Linked DNA regions of Homo sapiens. The protein of the gene in region 1 interacts with the protein of each later gene in a pairwise test. Each region holds a gene or a part of one and is shown in the gene's direction. Other genes may lie near its edges.

Region 1 (8,506 bases):
CAGGCTCAATTGTGTTACTGCAAGAGCGGTTCTGCCTTTGTGTCTGGCTCCAAGAAGTGTCTTAGTAATCTTTCTACTGCTCCTGTCTCTTGAGGCTAGGGACCTGCTTTGCTCTTTTAAGTCCTCTTCCCAAGGACTTTCTGCTTCTGATGATTGTTGCCCTGCTAACTGCTAGCGCATTTTATTTCCTGCTTGCCTGCTCGCCAGGAACTCCTCTGTACTTCACCTGTTATGGGGTCCCAGTTGTACTGAACATCTCCCCTCCCCCCACCACCTCCACCAGCAACTGCATACATAATTGGATTTGTTTTGCATATGATAGGACTTTTCAGGTACCCTGTTCTGGTTACCAGGCCATCAGCATCACAGTGAGTCTGTTCCGTGCCTCCTGACCCCACCCCCAACATTGACACTTCACCCTCTCCTGCACCCTGACCCCCAGGTAGTCTAATTCCAGGACTTCCCTTTTCCAAGGCAGCAGTCAACCATATTGTATTCTTCTCTATCTTGGAAAAATCACTAAACTCAGTTTTTCAGAGAGAGACACAATCACTGCTCTAGGCATTGTTGTATATGTTTTATATAGGTTATCCCACTTCCCAACAGCCCCTGAGAGGAGAGTGTTATCCCCATTGCACATTAAGGTAAAAACCGGTGTAGAAACGGCCCAAAGGCAGCAATCTAGGTTTTAAATAGAGATGAGCCTTGCTCCAAGGCTAGTCTAACATGCTGCCCCCACCACGTTCCACCTGGTGACAGTATAGTCTAATTGCAGGAAATGTACTTGCAGGAGGAGAGAGATGGTTTCTTGAGATTCGGATTTGAAAGTCTATAAATACCAAATATTATCATAGTCATAAATGTTTTTGGGTCACCTGATCTCAGTTGTAGATTTACAATAGAGGGCTGTAGATGTAGCAGAAACAAGCTATCTTAAAAATAGGATCCCCCATCACTCAACACCTCCCTACCACCCACCCTTCACCCCGCAAAAAACACTACCAGGGGTTTTGTTTTGTTTTTTGGGTTTGTTTTTGTTTTTGTTTTTTTTGCTTACTGCTTCTGCCATTACTTCCTTCCACAGCCTGCAAAGGAAGGTAGGGAAGGGAGGAGCAGAAAAAAGGGATTGACTTCTCACTTTGACTGCTAAAGTCAACTGCCTAGAATTTTCCAAAGGTGCTGAGGCTGAGCAGTGTGGAATGGGTGAGCTGTTGCTGTCTTTTAGGTCCCTTCAGGCATTGTTCTCTGTCAGAATCGGCATTGGTCTCAATGAGAATGACATACAATGCAGTAAATGATATGGCTTCTAGGACCCTAGACGGAACTACACTTTTATACCTAATGTTATTGCTATCAGTCATTCCTCCCTACCCCTGGCCATCCAGCATCCTGGTAACAAATCAACTCTTCTTCTTCTTTTTCTTGCTTTTTTTTTGGTTGGTTTGTTTTTAAGAGACAGGGTCTTGCTCTCTTGCTGGACTACAGTGCCATAATCATAGCTTACTATAATCTTGAGCTCTTTGGCTCAAGTGATCCTCCCACCTCAGCCTCCCGAGTAGCTAGGACTACAGGTATGCACCACCATGCCCGACTATTTTTTAAATTTTTTGTAGAGTTGAGGTGTTGAAATGTTGCCCAGCCTGGTCTCAAACTCCTGGCCTTAAGCGATCCTTTCACCTTGGCCTCCCAAACAGATCAATCCTTCTAAAGAACTGACTTAGTCATTCCCCTGCTCAATTGTCTTTGCTGTCTCCTTGCACCTCAAACACTTTGCTTGATAATTCCAGGTCTTCGCAACCTATCAGGTGCCTTACGTACCTTTTCAGTCTTCACTCCTGTGACTCTTGCAAGCACTTTTCCCTCCACTCAAATCAGAATAGACTGCAGTACTAGAACTTACTTTGCATTTCCACCTCTCTGTCAGGAACATCCTGTCTGTCCTCTCCAGTTCATCAGGCCCAGCTCCACCATCCCTCCCCTGCTTGCCATCAAGCAGTGTACACAGGACTGCATGGCAGCTCTTTTCTCATGTGGGTCACTCTACACTGTGTCCTTGAATGATTCTGCACCCCGTAGAGAGGGGGATGTGAGGCAGGAAGGCTAACTTAGCTGCGTGTTCTCTCAGAAGGAAGGAATGAAGGAATGGCCAGAGGAGTAGACACCCTTGGAGACTGCCCACCACGAAGGCTATCAGTAAACCACCTTTTTGTACACAAACACTGATGTAGGGATTTTTTTAATGTATGGGCTGTACCTTTTTTTAGTAAGAATTCAAATTTTATTGAGCCCCAAGGGGGAAAAATTCAACTTTATTGATAGGAAAAGTATCAATGAAGAAAGTTGCCTTGCATTTTCATCACTAAAATGACAGTATTTGTATATATTCCAAAAGTAGCAATGCAAAGGCAGTTTTCCTTATTTTTATGTGAAATTATGAGATGTGAGGGCCTGGGCTGCCCATCACTGATACAAACTTTATAACTTGGCTCTGGAGATTAACCTGCCTGAGATCCTGTGCCCTAACAAGCTCCAGAAATGAGAATATCAAGGTTCTTCTCTGGCCTCCAGCAACTGGAGGCCTTGTATTAGCTGAGATTCTTCTGTGTTAACACAGCAGATTCCCTGAGTTCCAGGACTCCATTACTTGTCTTAATTCTTTAGCCTCCCTTGAGGATAACGATCATATAGTACACTCTTTTTACCCTATTCTTCTGATGAGAGGCCAGCACAGTGCCTTTTGCATAGTGGGTCATCAAGAAATTCCTGTTCATGATGATGAAGAAATGACTTGAGAGAAAGTGACTTCACCCATGTGTGTTGAATTTTTATTTTCTTTAAAACAACACATCTACTTAGTGGAAGTCATATTCAGGAAATATTCTTTATTGTACATACATGGAACCTAGGGCTCCAGCTTCCTTTACTCACCTAGCTGGACTCTCTCAACAGTACCACCTGTTAACAGATGTGGCCCCACACATAGGCATGTATGTGCCTTGCTTATGCTTGGTACAATCGAGAAGCTCTCAAAGGTGTTGCTTATGCCAAATATCCTAAAACTATTTTCCCACTGCCCTAAGGTCTTGCCTCAATTTTCAACATGACTTTTTTTTTTTTTTTGATTAAGTAAGGACTCTGTTACTAGGGAGGAAAAATACATAAAGTTATAACAACCTGATGACATCTTAGTTCTGATCAGTTTATCTGACAGGCCTCCCATTGCTCGGAACTCCCACGGCATTTAGGAGATACCTTTTATCACTGCAGTGTATTGGAATGATCTCTTTTCCTGTTTTTCAAGCCACTGAGAGCTGCTTCAGGCGATTTCCAGCACCAGGCACAATTTGCCTGGCACATGGCGGGCCTTCAAAAAGATTGTTAAACCAAACTTAAGCAGCCTGCTCCCTAGGCAAGCCTTGAGTTCCGAAATGAGTGCCTGAAAAAGCAAGCCAAGGGATGTAGTCTTGTGGTGAGGAAGTATTTCCACCAAAGGCACTGCTTGGTTGGTTTCTGCAAGGGGCGAGAGAACCACCATAGACAAACTTGCTCCTGTCACAGCTTGGCTAACCTTGACCGGTGGCTTATCTATGAAGGTGAGCAGCCTGGTTCTAATGAAGAGAACTGCCCTCAGTAATTAAAAGTTCATCATCTACAGACCCAACCCTAACCTCATAATCTAATTTAGTGTTCCCCATCCCAACAAGACCGAACCAGCTTCCTGAGGACAGGTTCTGCATCATGTACATTTCTTGTGTTCTTAAGAGTCTAGCACAAAGTTTGGCACATAATAGGAACTAAAAAAATGATGACTAACAAACACGAAGGGCTTACCATATGCCGGGCACTCCTCTAAGCATTTTATATGTATTAATTCATTTAATCCTCACAACACTAAGAGACAGATACTATTGTTATTGTCCCCATTTTACAGAAGGGGAAAGCAAAGCACCTAGGAGTTTATGTGACTTGCTCAAGGTCACATAGTTCCACAATCCATGCTTTTAGAAACTATGCCTTAGAGCGTTTATTAGTATCATTTTTATTTTTATAGAGACGGGGGCGGAGGTGGGGGGTGGGGGGTAGTTGTCCCCATGTCGTCCAGGCTGGTCTTGAATTCCTGGGCTTAGGTGAACCTCCTGCCTCGGCCTCCCAAAGTGCTGGGATTACAGGTGTGAGCCACTGTGCCCAGACTCTTAGTGTATTTAAATAGGTGTGAATGAATAAATCTCTCCCGGAACCATAACTTTATAGGAAATTGTTTGCACCTCCTGGTACACCACTAAGGCACGGTCTCCCACACTAGGTTGTTCCTAGCGCACGGTCGGTCATTCGTTGACCTTTACCCACCCTCAGTTCCTATCGCAGTATCACTTCTCGCGCCATAGCAAGGCTACCGTGCGAAGCTCTAGCCACCAGGGGGCACTGTGGCCACAGGTCCTTTTCCCCTCCGGCCCTTAGCGACCCCCAGAGGGGCGGAGCCAACGTTGGGCGGAGCCCGCGAGCCGCCCACAGCGCCAGCTATCCCGGCGGGCCGCGCGCGCGGCCGCGTTTGAATGGCCCTGAGTGGGACTCGGCCCAGAAGCCGAGGGACTCTCTAGGCTGCCGGGCGCTGGTCGTCAGCGCCGAGGCTGGGCTGAGGCGCCGCGGTACCATGAGGCGCCGGTAAGTGACTGCCGAGCCGGTGCGAGCCCCGCGCCCGCAGCTGCCCTGCCCTGGCAGGGCTACTCCAGCCGGGCTTGGCCGCGCCCTGGGCCCACCTGCAGGCCCCGCGGCGGCCTCGGCTCGGCCGGGCTCGCGGCAGCGCTGCCGGGTCCCGGGGCGGGGCGGCAAGGCCGGGGCGGAGCCCCTCTGCCGGTCCCTGCGGGGAGAGTCGGGCAGCGGGCGCTGGGGGGCTCCAGGGGACTGGGCCGGGAGAGGCGTGGACCGAACCTGTTGTCACTTATTTATCTTCGGGTGGAGTCGACAGCTGCACCTGGGGAAGGGGAAGGACAGAACGAGTGTGGGGCGAGCATTTTTGAGGACAGGTTTTCCGCAGAGCGCCTAGGCCCGGCCCAGGCATTTCCTTATTTTCCGACGGGTCCTCGGATTCCTGACGGATGAGCTTTTGTTTCGCAGGACAAAAACTTGACATAACTGCATAAGAATTGTCGATTGCAACTTTAAAAACCTTACTGTATTTTCTGAAAAGTTGTTCTGTAAAGTATCTAGGCTTTTACTACGCTCTTATATTGCTTAAATATGGAGATAACAAAGAGTTGGTTTGTTTTCTTGTGGCTTATAAAGTTCCTTGAAAACAGAGATACCTATGTCAGTTTCTTTGCTGATTTAAAAAAAATTGTAAGAGAAATTAGGTGTGTAATAATCATCAGTTCAGCACTTGCGAGAATTATGAGAAACTAGTCCACCTAATAGCTTAAATCTGCTGGGTTTTTTGGAGTTTCTTTGGATAGCCAGCTTCAGACTTGAATTGAAACGTCATCCATTGAGGCTTTTACTTGGCTAATAACTAATATTAGCCAATAATAATATTAGCCAGTGTGATCATAATGATGGGCAATATTTATTTTGTGCTTTCTATGCGCTGGGCGTATTAAGAGCTTTACTTTGGGATATATACTGTTGTCCCCATTTTGACAGTGAAGAAACTAAGGCACAGGAAATTTTAGTATTGTAACTTTTGTACCGTACAGGGTTACACAGCTAATATAATTAACACCCGAGCAGGCTGGCTCCACGCTTTTAACTCTGTTGCTCTACTACCTCCTTTATCTGTGGCTCTTTTTAGTTTACAAAGCCCTTTCATTTCATTTACTTAAACTTCGGAGACCTGAGTGTGCTTTTGTGTACACATACATTCATTCACACACCATTCATTCAAGTTTTCTGCTCTTGATGATTATACTTAAGGTTTGTGCCTGAGCAAAAAATCCATTGACTATTTTAAGATAAATGGAGTTCATAAGCTTTATGTGTGTTATAATTTATGTTTTCAATTCCTTTATATCCTTTCCTGAAAGTTTTGAAAGTGTTAGTCTTAGCAACTTATGTATTACTTTAAAATAAAAAATTACATGTTAAATGTTTTCATCCCTAAAACTTATTGAGTGGTTATTCTGTACTTGAAATGGTTATACTTAAACTAATACCTCCTTGACAAGGAATAAATTTCAAAAGCAAAATCACTTAGTAAGAAATCAGCAGTTTATACTTATCTATAGCAGAGCTTTTAAATGTCATTCATCAGTTACAAAGCTTTCGATTGCCTGTATGCCCAACAGGGTGGTAGACCCAATTGGCTATACAAAAGAAATGTGCCGCAAGAATGACACTATGGACTTTGGGGACTTGGTAGAAAGAGAGTGGGAGGGGGATGAAGGATAGAAGACTACACATTGGATACAGTGTTCACTGCTCAGGTAATGGGTGCACCAGAATCTCGGAAATCACCCCTGAAGAACTGATTCATGTAACCAAACACCACTTGTTCCCCAAAAACCTATTGAAATAAAAAATAATAAAAATAAAATAAAAAATGTGCCAGGACAACCAACCTTAGGGAGATTAATCTAGTTTGGGTTATGAGATTAACAACAAAAAATATATATGACACTCTTCGTTAGTACAGTGGATGAATGCAGAACTGAACTGGGTAAAGCTTCTGCGAAAAACTAACAATTGCAGGATTTATGTAGGGCACTGAACAGAAGGGTGGATGGTGGGGCTAGGCAGGGTTGGTAATCCCAACACTTTGGGAGGCCAAGACAGGAGGATCTCTGGAAGCCAGGAGTTCGAGAGCAGCCTAGGCAACATAGCGAGACCATATCTCTACAAAAAATTTAAAATATTTTGCCAGGCATGGTGGCATGTGTCTGTAGTCCCAGCTACTTGGGAGGCTGGGGTGGGAAGATCGCTTAAGCCCAAGAGGTCAAGGCTACAGTGAGCCGAGATTGTGCCACTGCACTTCAGTGCAGCCACAGAACTGGTGTGGCTCACACCTGTAATCCCAGCACTTTGGGAGGCCAACGGTAGGAGGAAAGCTTGAGCCCAGAAGTTTGAGACCAGCCTGGGCAACATACCAAGACTCCATCTCTACAAAACATTTTAAAATTAGGGCCAGTGGGTCATGCCTGTAATCCTAGCACTTTGGGAGGCTGAGGCAGGTGGATCACAAGGTCAGGAGATCGAGACCATCCTGGCTAACACGATGAAACCCTGTCTCTACTTAAAATACAAAAAATTAGCTGGGCGTGGTGTCACACGCCTGTAGTTCCAGCTACTTGGGAGGCTGAGGCAGGAGAATCGGTTGAACCCAGGAGGCAGAGGTTGCAGTGAGCCGAGATCGCACCACTGCCTTCCAGCCTGGGCGACAGAGTGAGACTCCATCTCAAAAATAAAATAAAATAAAATTAGGCAGGTGTAGTGGCATGCGCCTGTAGTCACAGCTGCTTGGGAGGCTGAGGTGAGAGGATTCCTTGAGTCCAGAAGTTGGAGGCTGCAGTGAGCCATGATCATATCACTGCACTCCAGCCTGGGTGACAAAGCAAGACCCTGTCTCAGGGAAAAAAAAAAAAAAAAGTATTGTCTAGTAACAACAAGATGCATCATAACATTACACTAGTCAGTATTATGTTGATGTTTTATCAATCATTATATTTGTTGATCCATGTTAGTTAATTTGGTGCTTTCTGGAAAATGTATTTAGGAATATAATGTTTTTTAATTAAACACCTTAAACCTAATACAAATGGTACTTTTACTGGGAGCATACACTTTTTAAATTGGAAGGGTGTAATTTGACTTTTCTTTTCTTTTTTTTTTTTTGAGACGGAGTCTTGCTCTTGTCTCCCAGGCTGGAGTACAGTGGCAAGATCTTGACTCACCACAACCTCCACCTCCCGGGTTCAAGCTATTCTCCTGCCTCAGCCTCCTGAGTAGCTGGGATTACAAGCACCCACCACCACGCCCGGGTAATTTTTGTATTTTTAGTTGAGACGGGGTTTCGCCATGTCGGCCAGGCTGGTCTTGAACTCCTGACCCAGGTGATCCGCCCACCTCGGCCTCCCAAAGTGCTGGGATTACAGGCGTGAGCCACCATGCCCGGCGTAATTTGACTTTTCTTTGCCAGGTTCAAATGCTGTGTTTACTATTTCTTGCTCATCTAAGTATTTTTTCACTACCAGCTTAATACCCCTTAACTTTGGAGACTTCTGCGTTATATTTACCATTCTTGTTCTTGGAGCATAATGAGGGTAGAAATGAGAGAAAAGGTATTTTGAAAGGACTCCCTTTTTTGCTTCCTGTAACTACCTCTCTCTCCTTCAGTTTTATATACTGTCTGAAATTCTTTTTGCCTTGAGCAAGTCACCCAGAAACCTACCACCTATGTATGAGTCATGAGATGCTCATTCTAGCATCTCCTCTGCCCACTAGCATACTCTTAAGATGCACAGCTTGGTGTTACAGTGGGAAAGGCACTATTACTGTAAGTCGCAACGCTAAGCCTGTT
Region 2 (8,363 bases), on another chromosome or scaffold:
TGCATGTTTTTGTCTCACACTTGTCTTTGCAGGACCCAGCCTTGATGCCCACTTGGGAGGCAGAAAGCACCGGCACCTGGTAGAACTACGAGCTGCGAGAAAGGCCCAGGGACTTCGAAGTGTGTTTGTCAGTGGCTTTCCCAGGGATGTGGATTCTGCTCAGCTCTCTGAGTACTTCCTAGCATTTGGACCTGTGGCCAGTGTTGTCATGGACAAGGACAAGGTAAAGTGAATGGCTCTCGGGTTAAAGAATGAATCAGTGCTGGGCGCGATGGCTCACGCCTGTAATCCCATCACTTTGGGAGGCTGAGGCAGGCGGATTACCTGAGGTTAGGAGTTTGAGACCAGCCTGGCCAACATGGTGAAACCCCATCTCTACTAAAAATAAAAAATTAGCTGGGTGTGATGGCGCATGCCTGTAGTCCCAGCTACTTGGGATGCTGAGGCAGGAGAATCGCTTGAACCCGGGAGGTGGAGGTTGCAGCAAGCTGAGATCGTGCCACTGTGCTCCAGCCTGGATTACAGAGCAAGACTCCGTCTTAAGAAAAAAAAGAATGAATCAGATGTGCTGTGTACCAAAGAGACAAGAGAGAGAAACCAACAGCCTCTTTGAGCTGGTTCCTAATGTGGCTTATTCTTGATGGACATCACAGTACTTGGGCTAGACCAGCTTTGGGAGCTTCTCACACCTCCCCCACCCCTTGAATTTTTATTTTTATTATTATATTTTTGAGTGCAGTGGCACAATCTCAGCTCACTGTGACGTCTACCTCCTGGGTTCCAGCAATTCTCACACCTTAGCCACCCAAGCAACTGAGATTACAGGCGCGTGCCCCCATGCCCAGCTAATTTTTGTATTTTTAGTAGAGACAGGGTTTCACCATGTTGGCCAGGCTGGTCTCGAACTCCTGACCTCAGGTGATCCGTGCACCTCAACCTCCCCAAATGCTGGGATTACGGGCGTGAGCCACTGCTCCCAGTCCCACCCTTTGGATTTTATCACTTCACCAGAGTTAGTCACTGGGGGATTTTTTTGTGTGTGTCATCTATTGATTCAGTGAATTCTTTGCCAAATATTTATTCACAGCTAACTTTGTACTAGGCACTATGCTTAGGGCTGCATTCTGAGTAGTGAATGGGGTAGATATGGTCCCTGCTCTCACAGAGCCTATAGTCTAGAGGAGAAAGTAAACAATTAAGTAATTATAGTGAAAGTTGGTGCTTAAAGAACAACATACCATTGGATCAACTCCACAAGAACCTGGTTGATAAACCAGTTAGCAGTTTATTAACTTACACTGAGGGTACTAAGGTTGTTTGGTTAGAACACCCTGTCCTTTGGAGAGTGTTAGATAAACAAGCTTGTGCTTTTTGTGTTGCTTCCCTGTAGGTTTTGGTCCCTTGAAAAAAGTTCACTGTTGAGGTGCTGTGTTCCTTGGTCATACTGTGGTTCTGAGGCTGTACTCTTGTTATGTAGGCATGGCTTAGGTGATCCAAAATATCCCTTTGCAGCCCAGGTTATCTTTTAGAATGGGGTGGAGCCTGTGTTTGTTAGGGATTGCATTCAGCAACCAAACTACAAATGGCTTAAACAATAGGAATTTAGTTTTTCTCATGTAACAAGAAGTCCAGACCTGGACAGTTCAGGGCTTTGCTGTTTTCCTGCTCTGCCATTATTGGTATGTGGCTCTTCATAGTTACGATACTGCTGCCCCATATCTTCAGAAAAGAAGAAGGGGCAGCTTGTAGGGCAGAGTATAAAAGGTTAGTGTCGGCCAGGTCCAGTGGCTCACGCCTGTAATCCCAGCACTTTGGTAGGCTGGGGCGGGTGGATCATGTGAGGTCGGGAGTTCGAGATCAGCCTGACCAACATGGAGAAACCCCGTCTCTACTAAAAATACAAAATTAGCGGGGCGTGGTGGCACATGCCTGTAATCCCAGCTACTCGGGAGGCTGAGGCAGGAGAATCGCTTGAACCCGGGAGGCGGAGGCTGCCTTGAGCCGACATCGCGCCATTGCATTCCAGCCTGGGCAACAAGAGCGAAACTCCATCTCATAAAAAAAGGTTAGTGTCAGCTGAGTTTGAGTCCCCTCCTCTATTTTTTTTCCTTTTATTCTGAGAAAAATGCCTTTTCTTTTTCCTTTTTTTTTTTTTTTTTTTGAGAGGGAGTTTTTTTGTGGTAGAATTCTGGCCACTGAGATATAAGTAGAAGTTTACTGAGGAGGCCTTTAGAAAAAGTATTTCTCTCGACTGGGCACAGTGGCTTACGCCTGTAATCCCAGCACTTTGGGAGACTGAGGTGGGAGGATCACCTAAGGTCAGGAGTTCGAGACCAGCCTGGCCAACATGGCGAAACCCCATCTCTACTAAAAATACAAAAATTAGCTGGGTGTGGTGGCAGGCGCCTGTAATCCCAGCAAGCAATTCTCCCGCCTCAGCCTCCCGAGTAGCTGGGACTGCAGGCGCGTGCCACCACACCCGGCTAATTTTTGTATTTTTAGTAGAGACCAGGTTTCACCATGTTCGCCAGGCTGGTCTCGAACTTCTGACCTCAGGTGATCCGCCTACCTCGGCCTCTCAAAGTGCTGGGATTACAGGTGTGAACTACTGTGCCTGGCCTAATTTTTTGTATTTTTAGTAGAGACAGGATTTCTCCATGTTGGCCATGCTGGTCTTGAACTCCTGGCCTCAAGTGATCTGCCCACCTCAGCCACGCAAACTGCTGGGATTACAGGCGTAAGCCACTGTGCTCCGCCTAATGATTAACATTTTTATTGAGGAACTACTATGCATCAATTGTGTGCTAAGCACATTATGTACACTTGCATCTAATCTCCACAACATTCTCTTAAGGGAAATGGTCAGTAGGCAGTTGGAGATTTGGGAGTTTAAGACACTGCTTGTGAGGCAGTTACAAGTTACTTAACCTCTTTGAGTTTCAGTTTCTTAATTTGTAAAATGGAAATAATAATACATACTTCGTAGGTGTCTTATGAGCCTCAGACATCGTTTGTGTGAACTGCTTAGTTTATAATAAGCCCTCAACAAATAGTAACTCTAGCTATGGATGGTGGTGTTGAGAGGACAAAAATGGCAAGGACACAGGCTCCTTATTTTTATTTATTTATTTATTTGAGATGGAGTTTTGCCCTTGTTGCCCAGGCTGGAATGCAGTGGCGCGAACTTGGCTTGGGGCGATCTCAGCTCACCGCAAACTCTGGCTCCCGGGTTCAAGTGATTCTCCTGCCTCAGCCTCCCGAGTAGCTGGGATTACAGGCATGCGCCACCGCGCCTGGCTAATTTTGTATTTTTAGTAGAGATGGGGTTTCTCCATGTTGCTGGTCTGGAATTCCCGACCTCAGGTGATCCGCCTGCCTCGGCCTCCCAAAGTGCTGGGATTACAGGCTGGGATTACAGGCGTGCGCCACCGTGCCAGGCCTGTTTATTTATTTTTGAGGTGGAGTCTCATTCTGTCTCCCAGGCTGGAGTGCAGTGGCACGATCTTGGCTCACTGCAACCTCTGCCTCCTGAGTAGCTGGGTTTACAGGCGCCTGCCACCATGCCCGGCTAATTTTTGTATTTTTAGTAGAGACGGGTTTCACCATGTTGGCCAGGCTGGTCTGGAACTCCTGGCGTCACATGATCTGTCCGCCTCAGCCTCCCAGGGTGCTGGGATTACATGCATGAGCTACCACGCCCAGCTGACACAGTCTTCTGAATCTGCCAGTCCTGCCCTCCCTGATGCCTTCTGTGAGGTTTTGGAGAAAAATAGGAGCACAGACAGGCCCAGTGAAAGAGACTCTTAATTTCCATCTGGGGCTTTGGTTACAAACTTGGTGGTGTACTGCAGTCTGGTAAACTGTGGTTTATTAGAGTCAGAAGACTGGCCTGGGCAGGTCCAAGTAGCTACCTTTGTCCTTGGCCTCACTTCAGTTCTTTGCTGTGTTTGGCATAGGGGTAGAAGTAAGTCTGCGCATGGTGATGTGCCCCTATCATCCCAGCTACTGAGGAGGCTGAGGCGGGAGGTTCGCTTGAGCCCAGGAATTCAAAGCTACAGTGAGCTATAATCACATCACTGCACTCCAGTCTTGGTGACAGAGCAAAATCCTGTCTTTAAAAAAAGAAGGGTGTGGCCGGGCCAGGTGGCTCACACCTGTAATCCCAGCACTTTGGGAGGCTGAGGTGGTTAGATCACCTGAGGTCAGGAGTTTGAGACCAGCCTGGCCAACATGGTGAAACCGTCTCTACTAAAAATACAAAAAAATTAGCTGGGCGTAGTGGCAGATTCCTGTAATCCCAGCTATTCAGGAGACTGAGGCAGGAGAATTGCTTGAACCCGAGAGGCGGAGGTTGGAGTGAGCCGAGATCGTGCCACTGCACTCCAGCCTGGGCAACAGAGCGAGACTCCTTCTCAAAAAAAAAAAGTAAAATAAAATAAATAGTATACAATTCATTGGTTGGTTATTTACTATTGGGTAAAAAAATAAACAAACAAAAAGTATACAATTGGCTGGGCATGGTGGCTCATGGCCTGTAATCCCAGCACTTTGGGAGGCCGAGGCAGGTGGATCACCTAAGGTTAGGAGTTGGAGACCAGCCTGGCCAACATGGTGAAACCCCATCTCTACTAAAAATACAAAAAATTACCTGGGTGTGGTGGTGGGCACCTATAATCCTAGCTACTCGGGAGGCAGAAAGCAGGAGAATCACTTGAACCTGGGAGGCAGAGGTTGCTGTGAGCCAAGATCGTGCCACTGCACTCCAGCCTGGGTGACAGAACGAAACTCCATCTCAAAAAAAAAAAAAAAAAAAGTATACAATTTAGGGGTGGGTGTGGTGGCTGATACCTGTAATCCCAGCCCTCTGGGAGGCCGAGGTGGGAGGATCACTTGAGATCAGGAGTTTGAGACCAGCCTGGCTAATGTGGTGAAACCACATCTCTATTAAAAATACAAAAATTAGCCAGGTGTAGTGGTGCGTGTCTTTGATTCCAGCTACTAGGGAGGCTGAGGTAGGATAATTGCTTGAACCCCGGGAGGCAGAGGTAATAATGAGCCGAGAGTGTGCCACTGTACTCAAGTCTGAGTGACAGAGACACTCTGTCTCAAAAAAAAAAAAAAAAAAATACAATTCAGTGAGTGTTAGTATATTCACAGGGTTCTTCAACCCTCATGACTGATTCCAGAATGTTTTCACCACTCCAAAAAGAAACGCCTTATCCTTTCTTGGTTACTTCCCATTTGTGATTTAGGCCTGTGTACTGGTGAAGCCATCCTCCTGGTTGAGTTAATTGTTATGTATGGTGTGAGGTAAAGGTTCAACATCATTGTTTTGCATGTGGCTATCCAGTTGTCCCAGCACAATTTGTTGACAAGACTGTTCTTTCCCCATTGAATCTTCTTGACACCGTTGTTCAAAATCAGTTGACCAAAGATGTGTGAATTTCTTTCAGGGTCTCAATTCCATTCCCTTCATCTGAATGTCTATCTTTATGCTAGCACCACTCTGTCTTGGTGCTACCTTACTCTAGCAGGAACCTTTTTATAAACAAGATGAGGGTCCAGCTTTACCATTGGAGGATATAAAAGAATATGGACTTTTTTGCCTAAAGCAGTCCTGTTTTTCCTCTTCTTTTTTTTTCTTTTTGAGACGGAGATTCGCTCTTGTTGTCCAGACTGGACAGACTGGAGTACAATGCACAATCTCGGCTCACAGTAACCTCCGCCTCCCGGGTTCAAGCAATTGCCTCCTGAGTAGCTGGGATTACAGGCATGCACCACCATATCTGGCTAATTTTGTATTTTTAGTGGAGATGGGGTTTTGCCATGTTGGTCAGGCTGGTTTTGAACTCCTGACCTCAAGTGATCCACCCGCCTAGGCCTCCCAAAGTGTTGAGATTAGGCGTGAGCTACTGCGCCCGGCGTTTTTCCTCTTCTTGCTAATATTTTACCTTTAAAAAAATATGGCCAGTGAATATCATTGAACTCACCAACTTACAACAATATAGTTGTTATATTGCTGTTATTCCTAGATAGTGAGTTCTTGAAGACAGGGTTTATGAGTTTGTATTTATGCCTCGCACAGTGTTTATTACATGAATTGATTTTTTTTTTTTTTTTTTTTTGGAGACAGAGTCTCCCACTGTCGCCCAGGCTGGAGTGCAGTGGCGCCATCTCAGCTCACTGCAAGCTCCGCCTCCTGGGTTCATGCCATTCTCCTGCCTTAGCCTCCCTAGTAGCTGGGACTACAGGCGCCCACCACCACGCCTGGCTAATTTTTTGTATTTTTAGTAGAGACGGGGTTTCACCATGTTAGCCAGGATGGTCTCTATCTCCTGACCTCGTGATCCACCCACCTCGGCCTCCTAAAGTGCTGGGATTACAGGCGTGAGCCACTGCACCCAGCTGCATGAATTGATTTTTTAAAAGATTTTTAAAGTGGACTCATTCTGTTACATGGATCCTTAATAAATGTTTAAAAAAATTCTAATTATATCAGGAAAAGTTATAGGGTGGGTCATAGTGTAATCACATCATTGGGAAGAGTAGGGGACAAATAATGTAGATAAAATGAGGTTTTTAGAGGCAGACTGGGGTGAGAGTAAAATGTTTGGAATAGGAGTGAGGGAAAGAATTGTTTTTCTACTTTTTTTTGAGACAGGGTCTCGCTGTCTCTCAGGCTGGTGTGTAGTGGTGCAATCACAATCACAGCTCACTGCAGCCTCAACATCCTGGGCCCAAGTGATGCTCTTATCATAGCCTCCCAAGTAATTGGAACTACAGGTGTGTGCTGCCATGCCTGGCTAATTTTCTTTTTCTTTTCTTTTTTTTTTTGAGACAGGGTGTGGTTGTGTCACCCAGACTGGAGTGCAGTGGTGCGATCTCGGCTCATTGCAATCTCAGCCCCCGGGCTCAAGCAATCCTCCCATCTCTTCCTCTCCAGTAGCTGGGATTACCTGGCTAATTTAAAAAAATTGTACTGGCCAGGTGCAGTGGCTCACACCTGTAATCCCAGCACTTTAGGAGGCCGAGTTTAGGAGTTTAGGAATTAGAGACCAGCCTGGCCAACATGGTGAAACCCCATTTTTACTGAAAATACAAAAATTAGCTGGGCATGGTGGCATGTGCCTGTAATCCCAGCTACTAGGGAGACTGAGGCAGGAGAATCGCTGGAACCTGGGAGGCAGAGGTTGCAGTAAGCCGAGATCACCCCGCTGCACTCCAGCCTGGGTGACAGAGTAAGACTCCATCTCAAAAAAAAAAAATTGTTTGTAGAGATGGGATCTCACTATGTTGCCCTGGTTGGTCTCCAACTCCTGGGCTCAAGCAGTTCTCCTGCCTCAGCCTCCCAAAGTGCTGGGATTACAGGCATGAGTCACTGCACCTGGCTGAAAATTGCTTTTCTAGATATGTCCCCTGTTATTATGAAAACAGCAAGCAAATATTCTCAATTTATGGGATAGTCTCCATTTCAAATATTCTCATCCACTGTAGATCTCGTGCTTAGATTCTTGGTTCCAAAATCATCATCTCTGCCCCTGTTGTTTACCAGGGAGTGTTTGCCATTGTGGAGATGGGGGACGTGGGTGCTCGAGAGGCTGTCTTGTCACAGTCCCAGCACAGCCTGGGAGGACATCGCCTGCGTGTCCGCCCACGGGAGCAGAAGGAGTTCCAGAGCCCGGCCTCCAAATCCCCCAAAGGAGCGGCCCCCGACAGTCACCAGCTGGCCAAAGCGCTAGCTGAGGCTGCAGACGTGGGGGCACAAATGATAAAGCTTGTGGGGCTGAGGGAGTTGTCCGAGGCCGAGCGGCAGCTTCGCAGCCTAGTGGTGGCCCTGATGCAGGAGGTCTTCACAGAGTTCTTCCCTGGTAAGTTACCTCCCCTACTATGTCTGAGCCCTCCCTGGCCTTTGCTCTCCTGTGTCTGTATCCCCAGTCCTTCCTCCGCTAGAGGTGTTTGGTTGCTCTTCCATCTTTGTGCTCTGTTTTGTTCTTCCCCCTGCTCCTCCCTAACTTCTCTTGACCTTTCTTCTCTGCTCGGCACCCAGGCTGTGTGGTCCACCCTTTTGGCTCTTCCATAAATAGCTTCGATGTCCATGGCTGTGATCTTGACCTCTTCTTGGATCTGGGTGACTTGGAAGAGCCCCAGGTGAGTGAGTGTCCCAGGGAGGCAGCTGGGAAAAGTCCATGAGAATGGCCATGTGACTGTGGGCAAGTCCTTTAGCTCTCCATGTCTTAGTTCCTCATCTACAATGCAGATAATAGGACCTACCTGAAAGAGTTTATTGTAATTGGAGAGATGTGAATATGGATGAGTATTAGATAGGATGAAAATGAACTGACAGGGCCAGGCGCAGTGGCTCG
Region 3 (8,491 bases), on another chromosome or scaffold:
TAATCCCTGCACTTTGGGAGACTGAGGTGGGCAGACTATTTGAGGCCAGGAGTTCGAGACCAGCCTGACCAACATGGTGAAACCCCATCTCTACTAAAAATACAAAAATTAGCCAGTTGTGGTGGTATGCACCTGTAATCCTAGCTACTTGGGAGGCTGAGGCAGGAGAATTGCTTGAACCCAGGAGGCAGAGGCTTCAGTGAGCCAAGATGGTGCCATTCTACTCCAGCCTGAGGGGACAGAGAGCGAGACTCCATCTCAAAAACAAAAAACAAACAAAAAAAAGAATTTCTGGTGGACACAGTTCAGTTCATAACACCAACTCTTCTCTGCAGGAACGCATAATGAAAGAAAGTGGTAATGGTTATTGAGCAAACCAATATACAATATCCACCACAGCTTTAAAAAAATAAAGGTTAAATTATTCATTTCAACATAAGTAATAGTATAAGTTCAGAAGCAATATAAAAAACAGGTTAAATAAATACTGTTATATTTACCCAATGGAATATCATGCAACTGTTAAAAAAAAGAATACTGGGAGCTCTATGATAAATGTCTGTACTATTATAAAAAACTCTCGGTTGGGTGCAGTGGCTCATGACTGTAATCCCAGCACTTTGGGAGGCTGAAGCAGGTGGATTGCTTGAGCCCAGGAGTTGGAGATCAGCCTGGGCAACATAGTAAGACCCTGTCTCTACAAAAAACGAAGCAAAACAAAACAAAAACAACAAAAAAACCAAAACCCAAAATTAGCTTGGAGCTGAGAGTGGTAGCACACACCTGTGGTCCCACATACTTGGGAGGCTGAGGTGGGAGGATTGCTTGAGCCCTGGAGGTTGAGGTTGCAGTGAGCTGAGATCATGCCACTGGACTCTAGCTTGGGGGACAGAGTGAGATCCTGCCTCAGAAATTAAAAAAAAAAAAGAGAGAAGAAAAGAAAACTCTCCATGTTGTTAAGTGAAAAAACTAAAATTTAGAACAAAGTGAATAGTTTACTATATGTGTAGCAAAAGAAATGTATGAATATATGTCATCTATCTTTATTCATTACCTATATATGTGTATATATACATATGTATATAAGCAGGTAGGTAGGTATTTGCTCACATATGGCATTATCTGTGAATAATACACAAGAAACATACAACGTTGGTTGCCCCAGTGGTGAGAAGAACTGGATAGCTGGGGGCAGGGATGAGAGAGGACATTTCATTTTATGTATGTATTTTGGAGGTTTTTGTTCATTTGCTTGTTTGTTGAGAAAGCAGATTCTGAGACTGAGTTTAGTGTCCAGGGTGTTGATTAGGAAATGGCCTTGGTATCCAAACCTGTGGAAGGGTGAGAAAGGAATCAGGATTGAGCAGAGGGGGAAGACCTACAATTTGGGCCTGACAACACATTCCTCCATCAAGGCCATCAAGAACTCAGGAGTTGGCTGGGCACTGTGGCTCACACCTGTAATCCCAACACTTTGGGAGGCAAAGGCAGGAGGATTGCTTGAGCCCAGGGGTTCACATCAGCCTGGGAAACAAAGTGAGACCCCCCTCTCTACAAAAAAAATTAAAAAATTAGCAAGGCATTGTGGCACGTGACTTTAGTCCCAGTTACTTAAGAGGCTGAGATGGGAGGATTGCTAGAACCTGGGCAGTCGAGGCTGCAGTAAGCCGTGATTGTGCCACTGCATTCCAGCCTGGGTGACAGAGTAAGACTGTCTTAAAAAACAAACAAACAAACAACACTCAGGAGCTGAAATAGTGCATTTAAGAGTTATCCTGCTTTGGACAACATGGACAGCCTTTTATATTTCTGCCTTGATCAGTCCCCAGACGTGGGCTGCCTTGGAAAGGGCATGAGCTCCAGAAAGGCTATTCTCTGAAACTGAAGCACTCCCTGAGGGAGCTAACAGCTGAAAGCTTTCTGTTCACAGCACTCTCAAAGGTGGGCAACATGTACTTCCTTGGATTCTGAGTGATTCATCTCTGTGTCTGTCACTTACGGCCTATATGATTATGATCTAACCTCTTGAAACTTCTCTGACCTTACCTCCAAGTACTGTTCACTTCACTTGCTCTGCTCCTTATTGTTTCTTGAGTTTCCATCTCAGAGTCCTTTTTCTTACTGTTCCTGTCTTAATTGTTCCTCCCTTAAATAACAATGAGGCCCACGACTTTCTTCCTTCATACTTCTGCTGAAATATCTGCCTACTGAGAGGACTTCCCTGATCACCTTACCTGAAATAGTACACTTCCTTTAACTTCCTTTACTTCTTTTTCTAATACTCATCACTGCTTAACATACATTTCTTTGTTTACTTTTTGTTGATGTTCATTTATGATCTCCCTCACATTGTTTGGTTCCCTGGTGTATCCTCAGTGTCTAGGATAACACAGTAACAGGCACATAGTAGGCTTTCAACAAATATTTGTTGAATGAATGAATGAAGGAGTCAGGCACTGTGCTAAGTTGTAAGATAGAATTACAAGCAAAAGTGGAGGCAGGCCTTGTTCTCATGGAGCTTGCTATCTGGATGGAGAGGCAAAATAATGCATCAATCACACAAAGCTGCAGTCATGACATGGGCTAAAATGGAAAAAAAGATATGGTAGGAGAAGAGCATGTAGAAGAGCCTTGAAAGCTTCTGTGAGAAAGTGATGTGTAAGCTGAAATCTGAAGGATGAGTAAGCTTCAATTAGGCAAAGGAACATGGAAGAATCAGGTTCATTTTTGGAAAAGATCCCTCTGGATTCAACAGGGAAGAGTGAATGAGAGGGAGCAAGGATGGGTATCTATGGGACTGTTAGGAGGGTATGGAAATCCTTCAAATGGGGGGTGATGGTTGCTTGAATTAGAGGTGACCCTGGTGGTTAGAAGAAACAACTACAGGTGAGAATTATTTATTACACAACAGATGAGGCTTATTTATGAATTGTATATGGAAGGTAAGGAAAGGGAAGTGAAAAGAAGGGCTTCTGGGTTTCCATATAACTGGATGGATGGTTGAAAGAATATTGGAAGAGAAACAGGTTTATTTTGTTTTATTTTGTGTTTATATGTGTATATGGAGAAGAACAGTGAGAGAGAAGACAGATTATGATTTTGATTTTTGACATTTTGGTTTTGAGGTGTTATTGAGACTTCCTGTATGAGATGCCAAATAGACCATTGGTTATGAGTGAAGAGCTCAGACATGTAGCTTGGGCTGGAGAAGTAAATTTTTGAGTTGTCTGCCTAGGTGGTATTTGAAAATGTGGGAGTGGATGAGATTGCCTAGGCAGAGAACATTCAGTGATAAGAGGAGAGGATGATCTTGAGGGACTGACTTGGAAAAGAGACTAACAGGACTGACTAGAGATGTTGGAAGAAAAGGAGGAGAATGTGATGTCACCTCAAAAGAGTGTTTCTAGAAGACGAGTCCGTAGCCATATCAAACCTCCTGAAAAAGGACCCGAGAACTAAAAATACCAGTTGCACTAACTAACATCATGGAGGTCATTGGTGATGCTAGTGATTTTTTTGTTGTTGTTGTTGCAGGAGAAATGTTAAGGTTAGTGGAAAATTGATGAAATGGAAACATTGTGAGTAAAAAGAGAAAAGAAAAGCTGAGGGACTATTTGGGGATGGGGGTGGAGGGATGGAGAGTTTAGTTGGTAGTGCGAAGTTTCCAAGAAGATAGGTAGGAAAGTGAGTACCAGTAAAGGGCTTATTAAAATACCAAAGAGCCCAGCACTTTGGGAGGCTGAGGCGGGCAGATCATGAGGTCAAGAGATCAAGACCATCCTGGCCAACATGGTGAAACCCAGTCTCTACTAAAAATGCAAAAATTAGCTGGGCATGGTGGCGCACACCTGTAGTCCTAGCTACTTGGGAGGCTGAGGCAGGAGAATTGCTTGAACCCGGGAGGCAGAGGTTGCAGTGAGCCGAAATCCTGCCATTGCACTCCAGACTGGTGACACAGTGAAACTCCATCACAAAAAAAAAAAAAAAAAAAAAAAAGGTCACAGAGGGACTCTGTATTGTAACAGGAGGGAAGAAAGAAAACGGCAGGGTGCAGACTTGAGTAGATTTCTGTTTGGTAGAGGTGAGATGAAGGGATTGGCTTCTATTTTCTCTGTAATGAAAGAGGAGGGATTAACTACTTTTCTAGGTGTTAATAAGGGTGCCTTGTAAACGAATTGTTTTATATGTGAATGGATGCCTTAGCTTTCTAACTTTCACAGGTAAGTAAATATATATCCATGTTCATAGCGGTGGGAACAGAAACAATAGGTGTTTAAAAATACTAGATTGAGGCCGGGCGCGGTGGCTCACGCCTGTAATCCCAGCACTTTGGGAGGCCGAGGTGGGCGGATCACGAGGTCAGGAGATCGAGACCATCCTGGCTAACCCGGTGAAACCCCGTCTCTACGAAAAATATAAAAATTAGCCGGGCATGGTGGCAGGCACCTGTAGTCCCAGCTACTCGAGAGGCTGAGACAGGAGGATGGCGTGAACCCAGGAGGCGGAGCTTGCAGTGAGCCGAGATCGCGCCACTGCACTCCAGCCTAGGCAACAGCGAGACTCCGTCTCAAAAAAGAAAAATACTAGATTGATTTTGATTCTAATAGTGATGATAATTAATCTGATGATATTCTGATGGCAAGGAAAAGTATAAGCTCCAATCAGGCCCCTGTCGTAAGCCGCCTGACAAGTGAGAGAAATGAGGTTCACAGTTGGCTGGTCACAGCACAGGGAAAGGAAATCCACCCCCACGCTCCTTCTGGTCCAGGACCCTAAGGGTTAAGATCAACGAGAGTGGGCCATCACTGTTTCCTAGAACGGCCCCAGCAAAGCCGCCGGGGGAGATGAGGGTAACTTCCTGTTTCTGCCTTCCGGGTTTGAGAGTTTAGGACCCTGGGTTGGTGGGGTCAGAGGGAGAGGGGGTACCTTCCTCCCGGACCGCTGGGGGTGCAGGGCGCCTTGGGTGTAGCACCCAGAACAGTGAGTTCCTTCTTGGGGGGAAGGGAGCCGAGGGTTGCGGGCTAGAGGAGTGGAAACAGCCCCGTCCAGGCTGCAGTGGACGTCCGGGAGAGAGTTCCCGCTGCTGCCAGGGGCGAAGGCCCAGCATCTCCCGCCGACGGGCCACCGTCATCCTTGTCCGCGGGGTCCCTTACGGGATCTTGTCGGCCGGAGACCGTCTGGTATCCTGGAACTTCACCCCCCAGCGTCTCCAACTTGTACCAGCCAGCGGTTCTTAAAACTAGGCTTCAGGCAGTGCATTTTCTTTGAAGGCTTTCTGATCAAAGCACGGCCCCACTCTGATCACATTGTTGCTCTAGAACAGTGAAAACACTCCTTCCCCGTGGAGAGACATCTTAATGGCAGCCTTGTATGGTCTTGCATTTGCCACCATTTTGCTGAGCCACTGTTCCGGGGGCTCCTTTGCTGCCAAATTTAATAGTATTTTAGTAGGGAAAATGGGGGAGATGGTAATGTGTTGCCCAGACTCTTGCTGCTTTTGTAAATACTTTGATAACAATATGTAACTTAGGACAGCAAAATATATAACTCCATTCGAACAACTCCACCCCCTTCCTTTTTTTGCATTCAGGTGTATGGTTTTTTCTCCCCCCCAACTCAAACACTGGGGATATTAGTAATGTAGACTAGTTTCACGTTTCTCTAGAACAAATCCCCACTTGCTGAGTGTGCTTAGGGAATGTCGACTCACTTTGTTAACAAGGTTTAGGAATGTAGACCTCTGTTTTAAAATGCCAGTATTCTAAATATTCTAAAATAAAGGGACTCTGAGGATTCTTTGCAGTTTGGGATTATGCCCAGCTCTGCTTCCTGTTCTAGTTTACGATAATAGATCAGAGGGTGAAAAAGGTCAGCATCCAAACAGACTTGGAGCTCAGTCCTGCTCTACCACTTTCTAGGTGACCTTAGGAAAGTTTCTTAATACCTTTCAAACTCATCCTATAAAATGCTGGTAGTTGTTCATACACTTCAGAGGGCTACTGTAAGAATTAAATGACAAATGTGTGCAAATTATTTCATTCACTACCTGGCACATAATAGGCAGTAATGGTGAAGATACAATATAAGTACATATACTATTTTTTGTTTTTAAAATGTGTGCATTTGTATATCCTTTTACGTCCTTATTTTTCTCCCAAATAATGATACTCTTTATATTCTGAAATGGATGCCAAAAGTCCATATGTCACTGCCTTCCTGTGATAGATCACATTTTCTTCTTTTTCTTTTTCTTTTTTCTTTTTTTTTGTTGAGACAGAGTCTTGCTCTGTCACCCAGGCTGGAGTGGTGCAATGGCACGATCTCGGCTCACTGCAACCTCTGCCTCCTGGGTTCAAGCGATTCTCCTGCCTCAGCCCCCTGAGTAGCTGGGACCACAGGCGCCCGCCACCACACCCGGCTAATTTTTTGTATTTTTAGTAGAGATGGGGTTTCACCGCATTAGCCAGGATGGAACATTTTCTAGTCCCTTAAAATAGGTTAGTGATTGTTGGCTCCAGAAGACGAAGTTTAGGCTGAAATGGATATTGTGAATATGATAGACTTAGGAACTAAGTGCAAGGAGGAAGAGGTCCCTCTTTAGCCTCCTTTTTATATTGCAGGGTTATTGGCTATAATTATTCCACCTCGGCTTTGTCCTAATTTCTCTTTACTGGTTATATAAATCCTAACTTTCCTTTGAAATTGACTTCAAAGGTTTCCTTCTGTCAAGACCAAGTTATTCTTTTGAAACTAAACAGGGTGCTTTTTTTCTTTAGCTGCTGCTTATGCCTTCATATTGATTCCTTGAAGTCTTTATAAGTTTTATTATTGGTGTCTTAAAAAAAATACTTTGCTTTTTAAAGTAAAAGTGTTTCTAAGCTACGTGTGGACAATGAGGATTAGTATTCTGTCTTTGAAGCTTGATCCTCAGACCTTTAATGTGAAGATTTACTTTTTTGCATTGTTATTTCAGGGTTAACCCTTAATTCTAAACACTTAGATCTGAGATAAGATTTTCTAAAAGGGCTGCTAAAAGTTGTGTTTCTTATTTTCGGTATGGTTCATGGAACATTCTATGCCTCCTATTGTTGTGTTGGAATGGTTGGGAAGGAAGGAGGAAGAATAAGCTTTAACAAATACCTCCAAACATAATTTATTTCCTTCCACAGGGTTTCTGATCTCTAACTTGGCTGTGATCATTGTGATGGAGCAAGAAAAAAAACTGTTGGTCTCAGATTCTAACAGCTTTATGGAGAGGGAGAGTTTGAAAAGCCCTTTCACAGGTGAGGGATCAAGACGATGATCTGAATCCTTAGGAAATTTGATGTAGAAAGAACAGGACACTAGAATGAGACAAACCTTAATTTAATTCCTTGTTCTGTCACTTATAAGCTGTGTTAATTATTTCAGCCTCATTGTTCTCATCTTTAAGAAAATGAATAATATCTATTTCACATATATTTTAGAATTAGTGAGATACCGTATCCAAAGCTACTGTTCTTAATAAATAGTGGCTATTGTTATTTCTATAGCATTTGCTCAGATTTTAGCAAAGCTATTGTCTAGTTTTTACCTGAGATGGTATCCTGTTCAATTTAACTTCTATTCACATCAATCCTGTTTTTTCTCTTAAGTCTTCTAGAACAAAACCTAATGCATTTATTTTTAGATTGATGTTCCCTTTGCCAATAATGATTCAAATAATTCATTATTGTTGTTGCTAGGTACAAAAAAAAATCCACCTGCTTCTGGTAAACAGAGGAAAAGAAGTAAAACTGTCTTTAAAAACTTTTTTATATGAAATTATTTATGAGGTTTTACAGTGTTATTTCCTCTCTTCCACTGCAATTTAGAATTTACTTCTCTGGCAGAGATTTGGAATATGGTTAGAATATTTGTTTATTCTTGCAGGAGATACAAGTATGAATAATTTGGAAACTGTTCACCACAATAATTCTAAGGCAGATAAACTTAAAGAGAAACCTTCAGAATGGTCTAAAAGACATAGACCACAACATTATAAGCATGAGGATGCAAAAGAAATGCCACTGACATGGGTTCAAGATGAGATTTGGTGTCATGATTCCTATGAGAGTGATGGCAAGTCAGAGAATTGGGGAAATTTTATAGCTAAAGAGGAGGAAAAACCCAATCACCAGGAATGGGACTCAGGAGAACATACCAATGCCTGTGTCCAGCAGAATTCATCCTTTGTAGACAGACCCTATAAATGTTCCGAATGTTGGAAAAGCTTCAGTAATAGTTCTCATTTGCGTACTCACCAGAGGACCCACTCAGGAGAAAAGCCTTATAAATGCTCTGAGTGTGCAAAATGTTTTTGTAACAGTTCTCACCTGATTCAGCATCTAAGAATGCACACAGGAGAGAAGCCCTACCAGTGTGGTGAATGTGGGAAAAGCTTCAGCAATACCTCCCATCTTATTATCCATGAGAGAACTCACACGGGAGAGAAACCCTACAAATGTCCCGA

Evidence for each region. The genes of interacting proteins can lie anywhere in the genome.
Region 2: the proteins of KATNBL1 (region 1) and TUT1 interact in binary tests that used the Homo sapiens proteins (3 or more experiments, as listed by UniProt).
Region 3: the proteins of KATNBL1 (region 1) and ZNF572 interact in binary tests that used the Homo sapiens proteins (3 or more experiments, as listed by UniProt).

The regions. Positions count from the first base shown.
Region 1 is NC_000015.10:34,206,107-34,214,612, reverse strand, and holds the start of KATNBL1 (KATNB1-like protein 1), read left to right. Parts: upstream 1-4,516; 5' UTR 4,517-4,662; intron 4,663-8,506.
Region 2 is NC_000011.10:62,580,891-62,589,253, reverse strand, and holds part of TUT1 (speckle targeted PIP5K1A-regulated poly(A) polymerase), read left to right. Parts: intron 1-32; coding exon 33-223; intron 224-7,552; coding exon 7,553-7,868; intron 7,869-8,047; coding exon 8,048-8,148; intron 8,149-8,363. UniProt on the Homo sapiens protein: Poly(A) polymerase that creates the 3'-poly(A) tail of specific pre-mRNAs. Localizes to nuclear speckles together with PIP5K1A and mediates polyadenylation of a select set of mRNAs, such as HMOX1.
Region 3 is NC_000008.11:124,968,437-124,976,927, forward strand, and holds the start of ZNF572 (zinc finger protein 572), read left to right. Parts: upstream 1-4,858; 5' UTR 4,859-4,980; intron 4,981-7,169; 5' UTR 7,170-7,204; coding exon 7,205-7,283; intron 7,284-7,911; coding exon 7,912-8,491. UniProt on the Homo sapiens protein: May be involved in transcriptional regulation.